2 separate regions of the Homo sapiens genome follow, and region 2 is linked to region 1. Evidence: fine-mapped expression QTL. Tissue or cell type: thyroid. Region 1 holds a variant in brackets; the other region holds the start of a gene. All regions are shown on one strand. Distances are between the middles of the regions.

Region 1 (8,000 bases):
TGAATTAGTTTATTTCTAATTATTTTATGAGATTTAGTCTTTAGTCTGTGTTGGTAGAGAGTGCACTGGTCTCATTGTTGCGGCCTCCCTCCTAATAATGTAGGAAAAACTTGACCATTTTTGGGTGATTCAAAAATGCAGATAATGACAACTAATTTTTTATTCTTATACATCAGTCTTCCACAGTAAGCTATATTTTGGGCCCCTAGAATGAGGATTAAATTTAAGCCCTATTATTTTCTGTTGTTTTATTTTGCTGAGCATTAATCACTACTGTACTTTGTGTATAGCTTTCCACTAGAGTATAAGCTTCTTGAGAGTTGGGGCTTTGTTTTTGTTTATGCTGTGTGCTAGATGCTTCAAATAGGGCCTAACACATAGCAAGTGCTGAATAAGTATTTGTTGATATTGTTGAAAGCCTGGATATATGCTCTTCTTTGCTACCAATTTTCTTGAATGCTAGGATTAAGCCACTAGAGTGGAGGAGGGTCTGGATGCAGTGGCTCTCACCTGTGGTCCCAGCTACCCAGGAGGTTGAGGCAGAAGTATCATTTGAGCCCAGGGGCTTAAGGCTGTGATGAGCTATGACTGTGCCAGTGCACTCCAGCTTGGGCTACAGAGCAAGACCCTGTCTCTAAAAAAATGAATAAATTAGAATGGAGGACACTTTGGCAGGTAGGGATGAGGAGGATATCTGGATATTGGGTCTTGCAGTGTAGATAAGAAACAGAGACCTAAACTATAACAAATAAAAACGTATGTGTAGCACACATGTCAGACTACCACATTGATGATGTTTGGTATTTGGACCATTTAGAACAAATAATAAAGTGTCTAGTTGATTTTAAAAGTTTAGTCTGTCTAGGTACAGTGACTTAGGCCTGTAATCCCAGCACTTTGGGAGACCAAGGCCAGTGGAATGCTTGACGTCAGGAGTTGAAGACCAGCCTGACCAACATGGTGAAACCCCGTCTCTACTAAAAATACAAAAATTAGCCGGGCATAGGCCGGGCGCGGTGGCTCACACCTGTAATCCCAGCACTTTGGAAGGCCGAGGCGGGCGGATCACAAGGTCAGGAGATCGAGACCATCCTGGCTAACACGGTGAAACCCCGTCTCTACTAAAAATACAAAAAATTAGCCGGGCGTGATGGTGGGCGCCTGTAGTCCCAGCTACTTAGGAGGCTGAGGCAGGAGAATGGTGTGAACCCGGGAGGCGGAGCTTGCAGTGAGCCCAGATCACGCCACTGCACTCCAGTCTGGGTGACAGAGCGAGACTCCATCTCAAAAAAAAAAAAAAAAAGAAAAAGAAAAATAGCCGGGCATAGTGGCACATGCCTGTAATCCCAGCTACCCAGGAGGCTGAGACAGGAGAATCGCTTCAACTCGGGAGGCAGAGGTTGCTGTACGCCGAGATCGTGCCACTGCACTCCAGCCTGGGCGACAGAGACTCTGTCTCAAAAAAAAAAATTAAAAAAATTAAAGTTTAGTCTGAATTTTAAGCTCTCCTATTCTTTTTTTTTTTTTCTTTTGTGAGACAGTTTCACTGTGGTCACTCAGGCTGGAGTGCAATGGTGCGATCTCTGCTCACTGCAACCTCCGCCTCCCGGGTTCAAGTGATTCTTCAGCCTCAGCCTCCCTAGTAGCTGGGATTACAGGCGTCCGCCACCCCACCTGGCTAATTTTTTTTTTTTTCTTGCACCAAAGCTTTCTAAAGTTAGTGATTTATTTCTGACAAGTTTGCAAAACCCAAGAGAGAGCAGTTTTCTGGGTTGAACTCATACTTCGTGTTTACTCGAGTCTGAGTCACGGCACCTGACTTCCTCACAGGTGCACCTGACTGCTCTTTACCACCTGGCTAATTTTTATATTGTTTTAGTAGAGACAGGGTTTCACCATGTTGGTCAGGCTGGTCTCAAACTCCTCACCTCCAGTGATCCGCCCACTTCGGCCTCCCAAAGTGTTGGGATTACAGGCGTGAGCCACCATGCCCGGCCTTAAGCTCTCCTGTTCTAATCCTGTCCTAAACTGTGCCTAGGTTTTGCTGACCTTTAGACAGCCTTAAAGCTGTGAAGTTGCAAGTGATGATGTTTGTGTTATTCTCGGGTCTTGGTTTTGGTTATTAAGTCAAGGAATTGATACATTATGTATATCATGTAGATAGACATACATTCTTTGTATCTTTCTATTTTGGGGGGGTAACGGACACTCTTAATTAGGTTTCATTAATTTTCTCTGTTTATCTCACTTTTGGAATAATACTTTATTTTTGCATTGCACTTTCACATCAAAAAGGGTTAAAATTCAGTAAACATTTATTATATGCCAGATAGTAGGCTAGGTTCTTTCATATATATTACCTTATTTAATTCTCAAAACAACCCTGGAAGGTAGATGGTATCGTTTTAAACCTTGATTTTTTTTTTTTTTTTAATTATGGAGAGAGAGGCCCAGGGAGGGGCCATGACTTGCCCAAGATCACAGAGTCGGTAAGAGGTGAAACCAGACCTTGAACTCAGGTACCCTGACTCCAAACTCCCAGGTTTCTTCTCTCATACCATCCAACGTCTCTTGTGTACTTTATACAGAAAACAGGCCGGGTGCAGTGGCTCACGCCTGTAATCCCAACTACTTTGCAAGGCCGAGGCGGGCAGATTGCCTGAGGTCAGGAGTTCAAGACCAGCCTGGCCAACATGACGAAACCCCATCTCTACTAAAAATACAAAATTAGCTGGGCATGGTGGTGCACGCCTGTAGTCCCAGCTACTCGGGAGGCTGAGGTGGGAGAATCGCCTGAACCTGGGAGGTGGAGGTTGCTGTGAGCTGAGATCTCACCGTCGCACTCCAGCCTGGGTGACAAGAGCGAAACTCCGTCTCAAAAAAATAATAATAATAACACTCTTACTCCACGGTGTGTAGGCTGAGTACTTTCTCTCTTTTGAGGCTACTTTAGTGTTTTCTTTTCTTTTTTTTTTTTTTTTGAGATGGAATTTCGCTCTTGTCGCCCAGGTTGGAGTGTAGTGGTGCGATATTGGCTCACTGAAACCTCTGCCTCCCAGGTTCAGGCAATTCTCCTGCCTCAGCCTCCTTAGTAGCTGGGATTACAGGCGTGTGCCACCACGCCTGGCTAATTTTTGTATTTTTAGTAGAGATGGGGTTTTACCATATTGGCCAGGCTGGTCTGGAACTCCTGACCTCGGGTGATCCACTTGCCTTGGCCTCCCAGAATGCTGAGATTACAGGCATGAGCCACGACTTTCCGCCTACTTTAACATTTTCTTGCTAACGTCTGTCTGCTTAACATCCTGAATTAGATAGCTATAAATATTTGATAGCCAGTGTTTGATTATGTTTCAAACAAAGATGGCACATTCTTTCTTTTCATGAACTTTGAACTTATTGCACTTGATCTGTTAAAACGGCAGTATTGTGCAGTTTGTGTGTATGTCAAGGCTTTTATTTATGTATGTCACTCATATCCTTGTTTTCTGTTTTAAATTTTAGGTTCTTGGGGTTTTTCTCTGTCTGTGAGTACTTGGTAAAAAGTTAAACCCTAAAGATAAAAGGCAGCAAATAGTGACCAAACGAATGTTTTTGGCAAATACATTGGTGAAGGCCTCCTTCAGGTAGGTAGAGAGGAGGAGGGAAGAGGGTGGCCTTTCAGGTGGTAAAGACAGCATAAGCTTTATACTACTACTAT[A/G]AGGCCTATTCTGTGGATCTCTGATAGATGAGCAGACTGAAGTAGGTGGTGTCTTTTGAGGGGCACTGCTGATAACGTTGGGTAGAAATTTTAAACAACTTTGAAAGCCAAGTATGGACATAGCCATTAGAAGTTTTGTTTTTTTTGTTTTTTGGATATGGAGTCTCACTGCGATGTCCAGGCTAGAGTGCAATGGCACGATCTCGGCTCACTGTAACCTACGCTTCCTGGGTTCAAGCGATTCTCCTGCCTCAGCCTCCCAAGTAGCTGGGATTACAGGCACGTGCCACCACGCCCGGCTAATTTTTTGTATTTTTAGTAGAGACGGGGTCTCAACTATTATTGGCCAGGCTGGTCTGGAACTCCTGACCTCAAATGATCCGCCTGCCTCGGCCTCCCAAAGTACTGGGATTATAGGCATGAGCCGCTGCGTCCAGCCAGTTTGTTTTTAATATAACAGTGATTTGGCCAAAGTGGCATTTTGGGAGTAATGTCTCCAGTTTCAGGTCGGGGTGGTCTAGAAAGAAATTCAAATAGCTTGCCTTTTGAGGTGACAGGAACCCTGAACTCTTAAGGCAGTGGTTTTCAAAGTGTAGGTCTCTCATTAGCAGCATGAGCATTAACTGAGTGTCTGGGAACATATTAGAATGCAAATTCTTGGGCCCCACCCCAAACTTACTGAACCAGAAACTCTGGAGTTGGGGCCTAGCAATCTGTGTTTTAACAAGACAGGTGATTTTGATCCACGCAAAAGTTTGAGAACCATTGCTGTGGGTTATAGGTAGAAATGGAAAGGAAGAGATAGAAGCAAGACACATTGGCAGTGAAGGACTGACTAAACTTTGTAACTGATGGATAGCAGCATGTTATGATAGAGAAGAGTACTTAATTGGGGATGTTGAGCCTTGAGTTTTAGTATCAAGTCTCTTACCAATTGTGCTTTTATTCGTATTTATTTATTTATTTTTTGAGAGGGAGTTTCACTCTTGTTGGCCAGGCTGGAGTGTAATGGTGCTATCTTGGCTCAGTGCAATCTCCGCCTTCAGGGTTCAAGCACTTCTCCTGCCTCAGCCTCCCAGGTAGCTGGGATTACAGGCGTGCGCCACCACACTGCGCTAATTTTGTGTTTTTTTTTGTAGAGATGGTGTTTTACCATGTTGGTCAGGCTGGTCTCAAACTCCTGACCTCAAGTGATCCACCCGCCTTGGCCTCCCAAAGGGCTGGGATTATAGGTGTGAGCCACCGTGCCTGGCCTATTTTTATTTTTTGTTTTGAGACAGAATCTCACTCTGTTGCCCAGGCTGGAGTGCAGTGGCCTAATCTCTGCTCACTGTAACCTCTGCCTCCTGGGTTCAGGTGATTCTTCTGTCTCAGCCTCTCCAGTAGCTTGGATTACAGGCTCCCACCACCACGCCCGGCCAATTTTTATATTTTTAGTAGAGACGGGGTTTTGCCATGTTGGCCAGTCTGGTCTTGAACTCCTGACCTCAGGTGATCTGCCCACCTCGGCCTCCCAAAGTGCTGGGATTACAGGCGTGAGCCACCGCACCCGGCTTCCAACTGTGGTTTTTTTTTTGAGACAGAGTCTCTGGCTCCTAGGCTGACGTGCAGTGGCGCCATCTCGGCTTACTATAACTTCCGCCTCCCAGGTTCAAGCGATTCTCCTGCCTCAGCCAGCTGGGTTTACAGCCCTGCGCCACCACACCCAGGTAATTTTTGTATTTTTAGTAGAGACAGGGTTTCACCATGTTGGTCAGAGTGGTCTCAAACTCCTGACCTCGTGATCCTCCCACCTCGGCCTCCCAAAGTGCTAGGATTAGAGGCGTGAGCCACCATGCCCGGCACCAACTGTGGTTTTAAACAAGAAAACTGACCTGTCCTTGTTGAAGTTGTACAGTGTGCTTTCTGAGGATTTTGAAGGCAAAGACAAATGAAATACTAAGGTAGACTTTGGGATTTAGCTTGGATTACCAGGAAGACTGGGGGAAAGATTTTTTGAAACTTTGAGGAGAGAATATGAGTGGATGAGGCTTTAGACAGTTGGAGATACTAGAAGATTTAAAGCAGATTCTCAACTGGGGATGATTTTGCCCCCAAGGAAACATTTAGCAGTGGACATTTCTGATGGTCAGACTGGGGTAGTGCTACTGGTATTTAATGAGTAGAGGCTAGGGATGCTGCTAAAGCATTCTGCAGTGCACAGGACAGCCCTAACTACGATGAATGAACAGGTCCAGAATGTCAGTAGTACAAGGTTGACAAACCCTGATGTAAAGGGAAATACCCAGTAGATAGGTTGCATGTTTCCGTCCTGATTATCTGCTATTCATTTTATAATTTTATTTTTTAAAGTTTTATTTATTTATTTACTTTTTTTTTGAGACAGTCAATCTGTTGCCGAGGCTGGAATGTAGTGGTGCGATCTCGGCTCACTTAAACCTCTGCCTCTTGGGTTCAAGTGATTCTCCTGCCTCAGCCTCCTGAGTAGCTGGGATTACAGGTATGCGTCGCCACGCCCAGCTAATTTTTATATTTTTAGTGGAGACAGGATTTCGCCACGTTGACTAGGCTGGTCTCGAACTTCTGACCTCAGGTGATCCACCTGCTTCAGCCTCTCAAAGTGCTGGGATTACAAGTGTGAGCCACCTCACCTGGCCTTGAATTTTAGATAAATCTAACACAAAACATCTCAAAAGCAGTCTCACATTGTGTTTCCCACATCATGCTTTGCAAAAGTAAGCATGAAGCCCTTTTTCTGTTGTTGAATTTTCACAAAACTAACTTCATGGTCATGACAATCCTCAACCCAGTTGCATATTTTCTTTACTCCTTTTAACATACGCAAAGATCAACTTATTTCGGTAACATAAGCATTCACTGTCTAGACATCAGTCATTAAGCTACAGCAGATAAGATTTTCTTTTTTTTTTTTCCCCCTGAGACGGAGTTTCACTTTTGTTGCCCAGGCTGGAGTGCAATGGCGCGATCTCGTCTCACCACAACCTCCGCCTTCTGGGTTCAAGCGATTCTCCTGCCTCAGCCTCCCGAGTAGCTGGGATTACAGGTATGCACCACCCTGCCCAGCTAATTTTGTATTTTTAGTAGAGAAAAAGTTTCAGCATGTTGGTCAGGATGGTCTCGATCTCTTGACCTCGTTCCACCTGCCTCGGCCTCCAAAAGTGTTGGGATTACAAGCGTGAGCCACCGCGCCCAGCACAGATTTCCTTTTGATACTCTCTTTGAAGGATAGGGAAATGAGATAAAAGTTGTGGTGCTGTTGTGAGCAAATGTTAAAATATTTTTAATTGCCCTGTAGCTGAAGACCGCATGATCACTCTGAAAAACTGCCTCATGAGCTGGTTGTGGCCCTCAGCCTTAATTCATCTCTTTAGATCCTGGATCACAGACGTTAGCAACTTTTTTGTTTGTCAAGGCAGTAATCTGCGTAAATGACTCGTTTCTGAGAGTGACCTCAAGATAATATATATTCATAAATGTAGTGATCGTTTTATAGTAGTTTTATAGTTTGCAAAGTACTTCTTTGTCTCTTGTGTCTTTTTGTCATTTTAGTCTTTTGATCATCACCATCTTAGTCTTTTGATCATCACCATTCTTGGGGTTGCCAGAACTTGTGGACAGTGCTACATGTTGGGTAATCCCAAAAGTTGCCATTCACATATCTTAATCTATGTGAATAAAGATGCCCTTGGAATTCAATGGTGCACACCCTGTAGAACTATGAACTGATGTTTCTACCCACTACTGAAGTCTAGATTCTAGATAGCTCATCCTATCATATACTTTCATTGCATTCTGTGTTTACCTTTGTTGCCTTTGTGTAACTATAATTAACGTTACTAGTGTGTTTGTTTAATATCTGATTTTTTCACCAGGCCAGAAACCATTTTTGGGGGATAAGGTAAAGGAAAAGTCACACTGCATATTTGAAAGTAGGAGATAAAAACCCAATCTCATGGATAATAGCACACATTGATTGAATGTGTACTGTGTGCTTGGTACTGGCATTTTCGATATACTCACTAATTTAATTCTCAAGAACCCTTTGAAATGGATTCTTTGACTCCCATTTTAAAGTTTTGGAAACAGATCCAAAGTGCAGTTAAGTGTCTCAGATTATCCAGTTAAGGGACAGAGCCAGGATTCAAAGTAAACAGTCTGGTGATTCCAGAGCATACTTAAGTTATACTGCCTCTTCATCAACTTTGTTGGGACACAGTTTATAAATGTTTCACTGATGAATTGAGGGTGTTTCCCAAGTCATCTGTTCTCATTCAGGAGA
Region 2 (8,088 bases), 260 kb after region 1:
CAGCTTCTCCCCCAAGCTGGGGTGGATGAGGGGCATAGGGGAGCCTCGGGGCCCCTTCAGGATCACAGCATGTCAAGGTTGGAAGGGACCTCAGTGAGTACCTCCTACTCTCCCCAGCCCCCACCATCACATCATACAGATGAGGAAGCAGCCGAGACAGGGAGGGATTTGCACAAATCACACGGGGGCAGGGACGTATCCTACCACAGCTCCCGACTTCCCGCTCTAGGCTTCTTGCTGTTCTAAGCCCTTCAGAAAGTTCCAACGAGTTCTGACTTTTGGCAAGGGGGTGGGAGGGTGACTGAAAACTACTCAATACGAGTCGAAAGAGTGTATGTCAGCTGGGGGCAGTGGCTCACACCTGCCCCTGGCTGATATAAAAGGCAGACATGGTTCCTGGCCTTGTGAGGTAGACACACTAGTGGAGAAGACAGATATGAAACATATGAAAAAAAGCTTATGTGTCCCTTCTCTTCTGCCTAGGGTCCTCAAGGTCATAGAACCCCATAACCCCATTAGGTGTCAGGGGCAGAAACAGGACTGTGTGAAGATTCACAGCCTCCACCTCCCTTGCCTTCACGGAGCTTCGGCATCTACCCTTATTCCAGGCGGCTGCTCAGGTAATGAGTATGAGGCAGAGGTGGGAAGGCTGTCCTGGTTTACACGTGGTGGGGGAGGGGTCCAGAGCGCAGGATGAGGCTGAGAGCATGGGGACAACTGTCAAGCAGGGACAGATGGGACTGTGGGTGGAGGGCTGGAAGTTGGATGTTTCTCTCAGCACTGTGCTAAGAGTGACTTAGAGACATCTCAGCTGCATTTGGCTCACGCTGATTTATTTATTTGTTTGTTTGCTTATTTTTCCATGCCCTTTGTCAACAGGAATGGTTTACAGATATTTATTCATTCATTCATTTTTTGAGACAGAATCTCACTCTGTTGCCCAGGCTGGAGTGCAGTGGCGCGATCTTGGCTCACTGCAACCTCCACCTCCCAGGTTCTAGCGATTCTCCTGCCTCAGCCTCCTGAGTAGCTGGGATTACAGGCACGTGCCACCATGCCTGGCTAATTTTTGTATTATTAGTAGAGATGGGGTTTCACCATGTCGGCCAGGCTGGTCTTAAACTCCTGGCCTCAGGTGATCCACTTGCCCCGGCCTCCCAAAGTGCTGGGATTACAGGCGTGAGCCATAGCGCTCGGCCTACTTTTTTTTTTTTTTTTTTTTTTTGAGAAAGGGTCTGGCTCTCTTACCCAGGCTGCAGTGCAGTGGCGCTATCTCAGCTCACTGCAATCTCCACCTCCTGGGCTCAAGTGATCCACCAGCCTTGGTCTCCCACAGTGCTGGGATTAAGCATGAGCCGCCGCGCCCGGCTGGTTTACACATTTTTAAATGTAACACCTATTTATTCATTATTTACTGAGTGCCAGACCCTGTGTGAGGTACATACAGCAACAAACAAAACAGACATGGATGCTGGGTGTGGTGGCTCACGCCTGTAATCCTAGCACTTTGGGAGGCTAAGGCAGGAGGATCGCCTGAGCCCAGGAGTTCAACTCCAGCCTGGGCAACAGAAGGAGACCTTGTCTCTAACAAACATTTAAAAAATTAGCTGGCTGTAGTGGCATGCGCCAGTAGCCCTAGTTACTCGGGAGGTTGAGGTGGAAGGATCGCTTGAGCCTGGGAAGTTGAGGCTGCAGTGATCTATGATCGTGCCACTACACTCCAGCCTGGGTGACAAAGCAAGAACCCATCTTAACAAACAAAACAAAACAGAACAAACAAAACAAAGCCAAGGCCGGGTGCAGTGGCTCACGCCTGTAATCCCAGCACTTTGGAAGGCTGAGACGGGCAGATCAGTTGAGGTCAGGAGTTTGAGACCAGCCTGGCCAACATGGCAAAACCCCATCTCTAATAAAAATACAAGAATTAGCCGGGCGTGGTGGCACACACCTGTATTCCCAGGTACTTGGGAGGCTGAGGCACAAGAATTGCTTGAACCCCAGAGGCGGAGGTTACAGTGAGCCGAGATCGCGCCACTGCCCTCCAGCCTGGGCGACAGAGCAAGACTCTGTCTTCAGAAAAAACAAAAAACCAAAAACCAGACATGGTTCCTGCCCTTGTGAGGCAGACACACTAGTGAGGAAGACAGATGTTAAACAGGCAAACACACGCATGAAATAACGTGATAAGTGCTGTGGCTAAAACAGGGTCTAGCTAGAGTGTAATGGGATGCTGGTGGGGGCAGAAAAGACGGCACTGAGCCTGGAGGAAGAGAAGCACCGCCACGTTAGAAGGGGTAAGACGATGCCAAGTGGTGGGGACAGCTAAGGATGTGCTAAAATCCCCAGGTGGAAAAGGAAGTGGAGGGTTCAGGGAGCCCACAGGGTTGGCATGGCTGTGCAGGTGATCAAGGGGAGGCCACAGGTGGAGAAATGGGTGGCGGCGGCTCCTGCAGGTTCAGGGCAGAGTTTGGATTTTATGGCAACCACTGGAGTGTGCAAACACGGGAGAGGCATGACACAATGGACATTTTAGGAGGGTCACTTTGCTGCTGTATGGAGAGTGGCCTGGAGGGGGCAGGGTGGAGGCAGGAGACCACTGAGAGCTGTTACAGTCATCCAGGTGAGAGGATGGTGGCCTAGGCCTTGGAGATGGAAGAGGAGGGCAAAGTTGCCACCTGTTAAGTTGCCACCTGTTTGGGAAGCAGAGTGGTCAGGACTTAACTGAAAGACTGTGTAGGGGTGAGGGCGAGCATGAGGTCAAGGATGACTCCAGCATACTGAGCCGGATGCCCAGGGACAGGGGCACTATTTCCATGGATCCCCCGGGAAGGGGAAGGGAAGAGTAACCTCCTCCCCCAAGGCTCCACGGAAGGGGCAAGGGCTGGTGACGAGGGGAGCAGAAGGGAAGGAGAGGGAGAAACAAAGTGTATGCATGTATCCAAATGTGTACAATTATTATGTATCAATTCAACTCATTTGAAAGTGGGTCTGGAGAGCAAGGGTGGCAGAGATAAATATATCTTCTGCACTACCACAGGACCTGAGGGGCAAGGCACGGGCAGGCCCTGCAGGAATACAGGGATGCCCTGGGCCCTTCCAAGAACTACCAGAGCCTTGGTACTGTGGGGAGAGTAGGGGTCAGTGAGTTTCTCCAGGACTCCCTTACATTTTACACACGTGGACCCGGAAGCCCAGGGGAAGGGGAATACCTTCCAGCTGATGCATCCCCACCTGGCACACAGTCTGGTTTTTTTTTTTGAGATGGAGTCTCACTCTGTTGCCAGGCTAGAGTGCAGTGGCGCGATCTCGGCTCACTGCAACCTCCGCCTCCGGGTTCAAGCAATTCTCCTGCCTCAGCCTCCAGAGTAGCTGGGACTACAGGCGCGTGACAACATGCCCGGCTACTTTTTGTACTTTTAGTAGAGACGGGGTTTCACCATGTTGGCCAGAATGGTCTGGATCTCTTGACCTCGTGATCCGCCCGCCTCGGCCTCCCAAAGTGGTAGGATTACAGGCGTAAGCCACCGTACCCGGCCAGTCTGGGGTCTTTTAAAAATACAGACCCGGGGCTGGGCGCGGTGGCCCATGCCTGTAATCCCAGCACTTTGGGAGACCGAGGCGGGCGGATCACTTGAGGTCAGGAGTTCGAGACCAGCCTGGCCAACATGGTGAAACCCGTCTCTACTAAAAGTACAAAAATTAGCCAGGCGTTGTGGCAGGCGCCTGTAATCCCAGCTACTTGGGAGGCTGAAGCAGGAGAATCGCTTGAACCTGGGAGGCGTGATCGTGCCACTGTACTCCAGCCTGGGCGACAGAGCGAGGCTCTATCTCAAAACAAACAAACAAAAAAACCCCACACACACACACAAAAAACAAAAAACAGGCCGGTGCAGTAGCTCACTCCACTTTGAGAGGCCAAGGCGGAAAGACAGCTTGAACCCCACAGTTGAGACCGGCCTGGGCAACATGGCAAGACTCCGTCTCTACCCAAAAAAAAAAAAAAAAAAAAAGGGCCGGGCGTGGTGGGTGTGCCTGTGGTCCCAGATACTCAGGAGACTGAGATGGGAGGATCCCTTGAGCCCAGGAGTTCCAGGCGGCAGTGAGCCGTGTTCGCGCCACTGCACTCCAGCCTGGGTGACAGAGCAAGAATATGTCTCAAAAAACAAACAAACAAAAAAAGGCACATAACCACGATCTACCCTCGTAAAACGTTTCCAGAGCGTCCCAGCGGTGCCCCTCATCATCTGGCGGCCCCTACGCCTCTCTGAGACTCACAGACCTACTCCCCTCTCCAGGGGGCGGAGCCCACACCGCTGAGCATTTACTCTTGTTCTTCCCTCTGCCAGGGGCACCGTTCTACCCCTTTCTGCCTGGAGAAACTGCCGTTTTTCCTTAAAGGATCCTCGAAGCCGGAAGGAGCAGCCACCTCCCACTCCCGGCTGCTGCAAGCAAGCTGCTTTGACTTCTTTCTAGAGTTGGGGATTGCTGCTGGAGTCCGAGTCTCAGGCCCAGAGTGGGTGCGATGGTCTTGCTTGCACCCTGTATCCCCCGGCAGACGCCCGGGAACTCTACTAAGTGGGTGACCCCAGAGAGCTCGCCCCCACACTCCGACTCCGAGTCCAGCACTCGGTCCACTGCACAGGGACCTCGCGCCCCACAGCTGCGTCCTCTCTGACCTTCGCAATCCGGTGCGCGGCCCGCGGAACGCCCCGATCTCCAGGGGCACGGAAGGCCGAGGCGTGCCGGGGGAGCCAGGAGCAGCTGGCTGGCGGGCGCCGCGGGCCTCCCCGGTCACGTGACACCCCGGACAACGTGCGCCGTCACGTGACGGCAGAGCCTGTGAGCGTTTTTCTCACGTGACGGAGGCGCCTGCACGTGGACCAATGGGGAGGCGGGGGCGGGGCCGGCAGGGGCGGTGCGCGGGAAGGGACCCCGGACCCGGAGGTCGCGGAGAGCTGGGCAGTGTTGGCCGCTGGCGGAGCGCTGGGGCAGCATGAAGTGCCTGGTCACGGGCGGCAACGTGAAGGGTGAGTGCAGGTCGGCCTGGCAGCGGCGGTGCAGCAGCCGCGGAGCCGCCAGCCTAACCCCCTTCCGCTCTTCTCCCCGCAGTGCTCGGCAAGGCCGTCCACTCCCTGTCCCGCATCGGGGACGAGCTCTACCTGGAACCCTTGGAGGACGGGGTGAGGGGCTAGGGTGTGGGGGGCGGGTGGGACTCCAGCCGGGAGCGGGTAACCCGGACTAGAGTCTCGCCCCCACTAGGCGGGATGACCGCTGGCAGATTTGTCGGCAAAGTTTCAGTTTCTTAGTCTGGCGGCTGTCATCTTCCCAGGCCGGTGTGTGAATTGAGGAAAGCTGTCCTGCGAGCTCCCAGGGGGTGACGTGCACTTAGAGAAACTCGGGGAAGGCCTGGGTGTGCGACCCCTCCTCTGCGGCAGCAGCGCCGGGGCCGACTCTGAAGGCTTCCATGGGGAAAGGAGGGTTTTTCAGCAGGTGGTGGCGGAGCGGGAGGACGATAGGGCAAGTGTGTGAGCAGAAGCAGCCAGAGGGCTGGGTCTGTGGCTGCCCCCTGACCACGTCCCTCTCCCTGCTCTTCGTGGCCCAGCTCTCCCTCCGGACGGTGAACTCCTCCCGCTCTGCCTATGCCTGCTTTCTCTTTGCCCCGCTCTTCTTCCAGCAATACCAGGCAGCCACCCCTGGTCAGGACCTGCTGCGCTGTAAGATCCTGATGAAGGTGAGGCCCTTCCCTCAGCAGTGGCACTACTCCACCCCAGGAATCTCCACCAGCTGTGCCTCTGCCCTGGGGTACTCAGTAGATGCTAAGTGGGGAGAGAGACACGTGCAAGCCCAATCCATGCAAAACACAGGGAGGGCCATGGTAAAAGCATCACAGCGGGGACCTGAGAGGGTGGTGACGCTCAAGTTCGTCAAGAAAGGTAAGCACGTCTTTTGGCCGGGCGCGGTGGCTCACGCCTGTAATCCCAGCACTTTGGGAGGCCGAGGCAGGCGGATCACGAGGTCAGGAGTTCGAGACCAGCCTGGCCAACATGGCGAAACCCCGTCTCTACTAAAAATACAAAAATTAGCTGGGCGTGGTGGCACGCGCCTGTAATCCCAGCTACTCGGGAGGCTGAGGCAGGAGAATTGCTTGAATCCGGGAGGTGGAGGTTGCAGTGAGCTGAGATCGCACCACTGCACTCCAGCCTGGGTGACAGAGCGAGACTCCATCTCAAAAAAAAAAAAAAAAAAGGTAAGCAGGTCTTTCAAGGCATTCCAAGCATAAGGAAGAGCATGAATGAGGCCTAGAAGGATGCCAGTGCCCGAGGTGACGTGGGAGCCCTTTTCCCAGAGTTACATGCTGGGCCCATGATGGGTGTGGGCCTGCATGGGACAGGAGAGCTTGTTGCAGAGATGTGATGCTAGGCTGAGGTGTCTTATCCCATGCAGTCTTTCCTGTCTGTCTTCCGCTCACTGGCGATGCTGGAGAAGACGGTGGAAAAATGCTGCATCTCCCTGAATGGCCGGAGCAGCCGCCTGGTGGTCCAGCTGCATTGCAAGTTCGGTGAGTGGGCAGCCGGCCAGCCAAGGGGTGCCTCAGCAGGGAGGTCGGCGAGGCCCACTGAGACCCTATCGCCCATCCAGGGGTGCGGAAGACTCACAACCTGTCCTTCCAGGACTGTGAGTCCCTGCAGGCCGTCTTCGACCCAGCCTCGTGCCCCCACATGCTCCGCGCCCCAGCACGGTGAGCACACCCCTGCCCTCAGCTCAGCCCCGGGTCTCTCTCTTCCTTCTTTGGGGCCCCAAGGGGTTGATTTTAGAAGGTACCTCTTTCATTTTCCCTACAGAGTTTCTGTGAACCTCAAAGACATCCCATGGCCCGCTATGTGCTCAGGTCCTTACCTGGCTCTTTAAAGGCAGACGGTGGCATGGAGGAGGGGCAGGCGCCTCCTTGCTCCATTCTCCTTACTGTTAGGAGCCTGCATTCTCCATCCCAAAGGTCTGACTTGACTTTCTGGCTGCTCAAACCCATTCCAACTCCTCCTCTAGGGAGCACATTTCTGGCCTGCCACCAAATCTCTTGTCTGGCTTGAGTAACCTTGAAGGTCTGCCCATAACCTGTGGCTCAGAGGCTCAGACCCCTTCTCCGGCCTGGGCATCCTTCCAGAGGTGTTCCCCATTCAACGGCAGCCTCTTTTCCTGACTGCCCAGGATCGAGGAGTCCCCAAGGCCAGGGCAGGAGGCTGGAGGGAGGCTGAATAATCAGCTATGGGGTGGAGCTGTTCTGGGCAGTCCGAGCACTGGGGGCTGTCTGGGGCCAGGGAAATGGGGACTCCAGTTGAAGCAAACGTCCCTGGCGAGGACCAGCTCAGAGAGGAGTGGGCTCTCCCCCTGCTCCATGCTGGTCACTGCTTGCATTCAAGTGGCCCAAGGTCCTGCTCATTTCTCAGGGTGACTGAAGATCCCTTTGGGTCCTGACATCTGTTTCCCCAGGTTCTTTTGAGCCAGCACTGCTCAGAGCTCTTTTGGGTAGTGAGAGACGGGGGCCAATTCCTTGGTCTGCATTTAGGGTGGTGTCTTTTTTTTTTTTTTTTGAGACAGAGTTTCGCTCTTGTTGCCCAGGCAATGGCACGATCTCGGCTCACCACAACCTCCGCCTCCCGATAAAAGTGATTCTCCTGCCTCAGCCTCCCGAGTAGCTGGGATTACAGGCATGCGCCACCATGCCCGGCTAATTTTTTGTATTTTTAGTAGAGACAGGGTTTCTCCATGTTGGTCAGGCTGGTCTTGAACTCCCGACCTCAGGTGATCTGCCCGTCTCAGCCTCCCAAAGTACTGGGATTACAGGCGTCAGCCACCACACTCAGTCTCTTTTTTTAAAAATGAGCAATTGTTTCTCTCGTTTTGTTTTGAGATAGAGTCTCGCTCTGTCACCCAGGCTGGAGTGCAGTGGTGCAATCTTGGCTCACTGCAATCTCTGCCTCCCGGGTTCAAGCGATTCTCCTGCCTCAGCCTCCCGAGTAGCTGGGATTACAGGCATGCACCACCACGCCCGGCTAATTTATATATGTTTAGTAGAGACGAGGTTTCACC

Alleles and levels. Alleles are on the strand shown, and positions count from the first base shown. SD is a standard deviation of normalised expression in the study named.
In carriers of allele G in region 1, the expression in thyroid of the gene that starts at base 4,935 in region 2 tends to be higher than with A alone (moderate effect, 0.66 SD a copy in GTEx).

The links. PIP is the estimated chance that this variant, and not a neighbour inherited with it, causes the effect.
Region 2: it holds the start of RAD9A, and the variant in region 1 is fine-mapped to the expression of RAD9A in thyroid (GTEx, PIP 0.94).

Annotation. Positions count from the first base shown.
Region 1 is chr11:67,128,448-67,136,447 of GRCh38, forward strand. All of the region lies in intron 2 of KDM2A (lysine demethylase 2A), which reads left to right. It overlaps LOC124902695 (a long non-coding RNA gene), which reads left to right and starts at 6,164. Exons shown (of 2, transcript XR_007062740.1): 1 at 6,164-6,200. The variant A/G (reference allele first, on the strand shown) is at 3,701.
Region 2 is chr11:67,387,052-67,395,139 of GRCh38, forward strand. RAD9A (RAD9 checkpoint clamp component A) reads left to right here and starts at 4,935. Exons shown (of 11, transcript NM_004584.3): 1 at 4,935-5,027; 2 at 5,110-5,180; 3 at 5,603-5,731; 4 at 6,445-6,559; 5 at 6,640-6,739. The coding sequence starts at 4,994. It overlaps LOC100130987 (a long non-coding RNA gene), which reads left to right. Exons shown (of 4, transcript NR_024469.1): 3 at 484-620; 4 at 4,347-4,636. RefSeq lists enhancers at 4,102-5,017, 5,052-5,556 and a silencer at 4,782-5,151.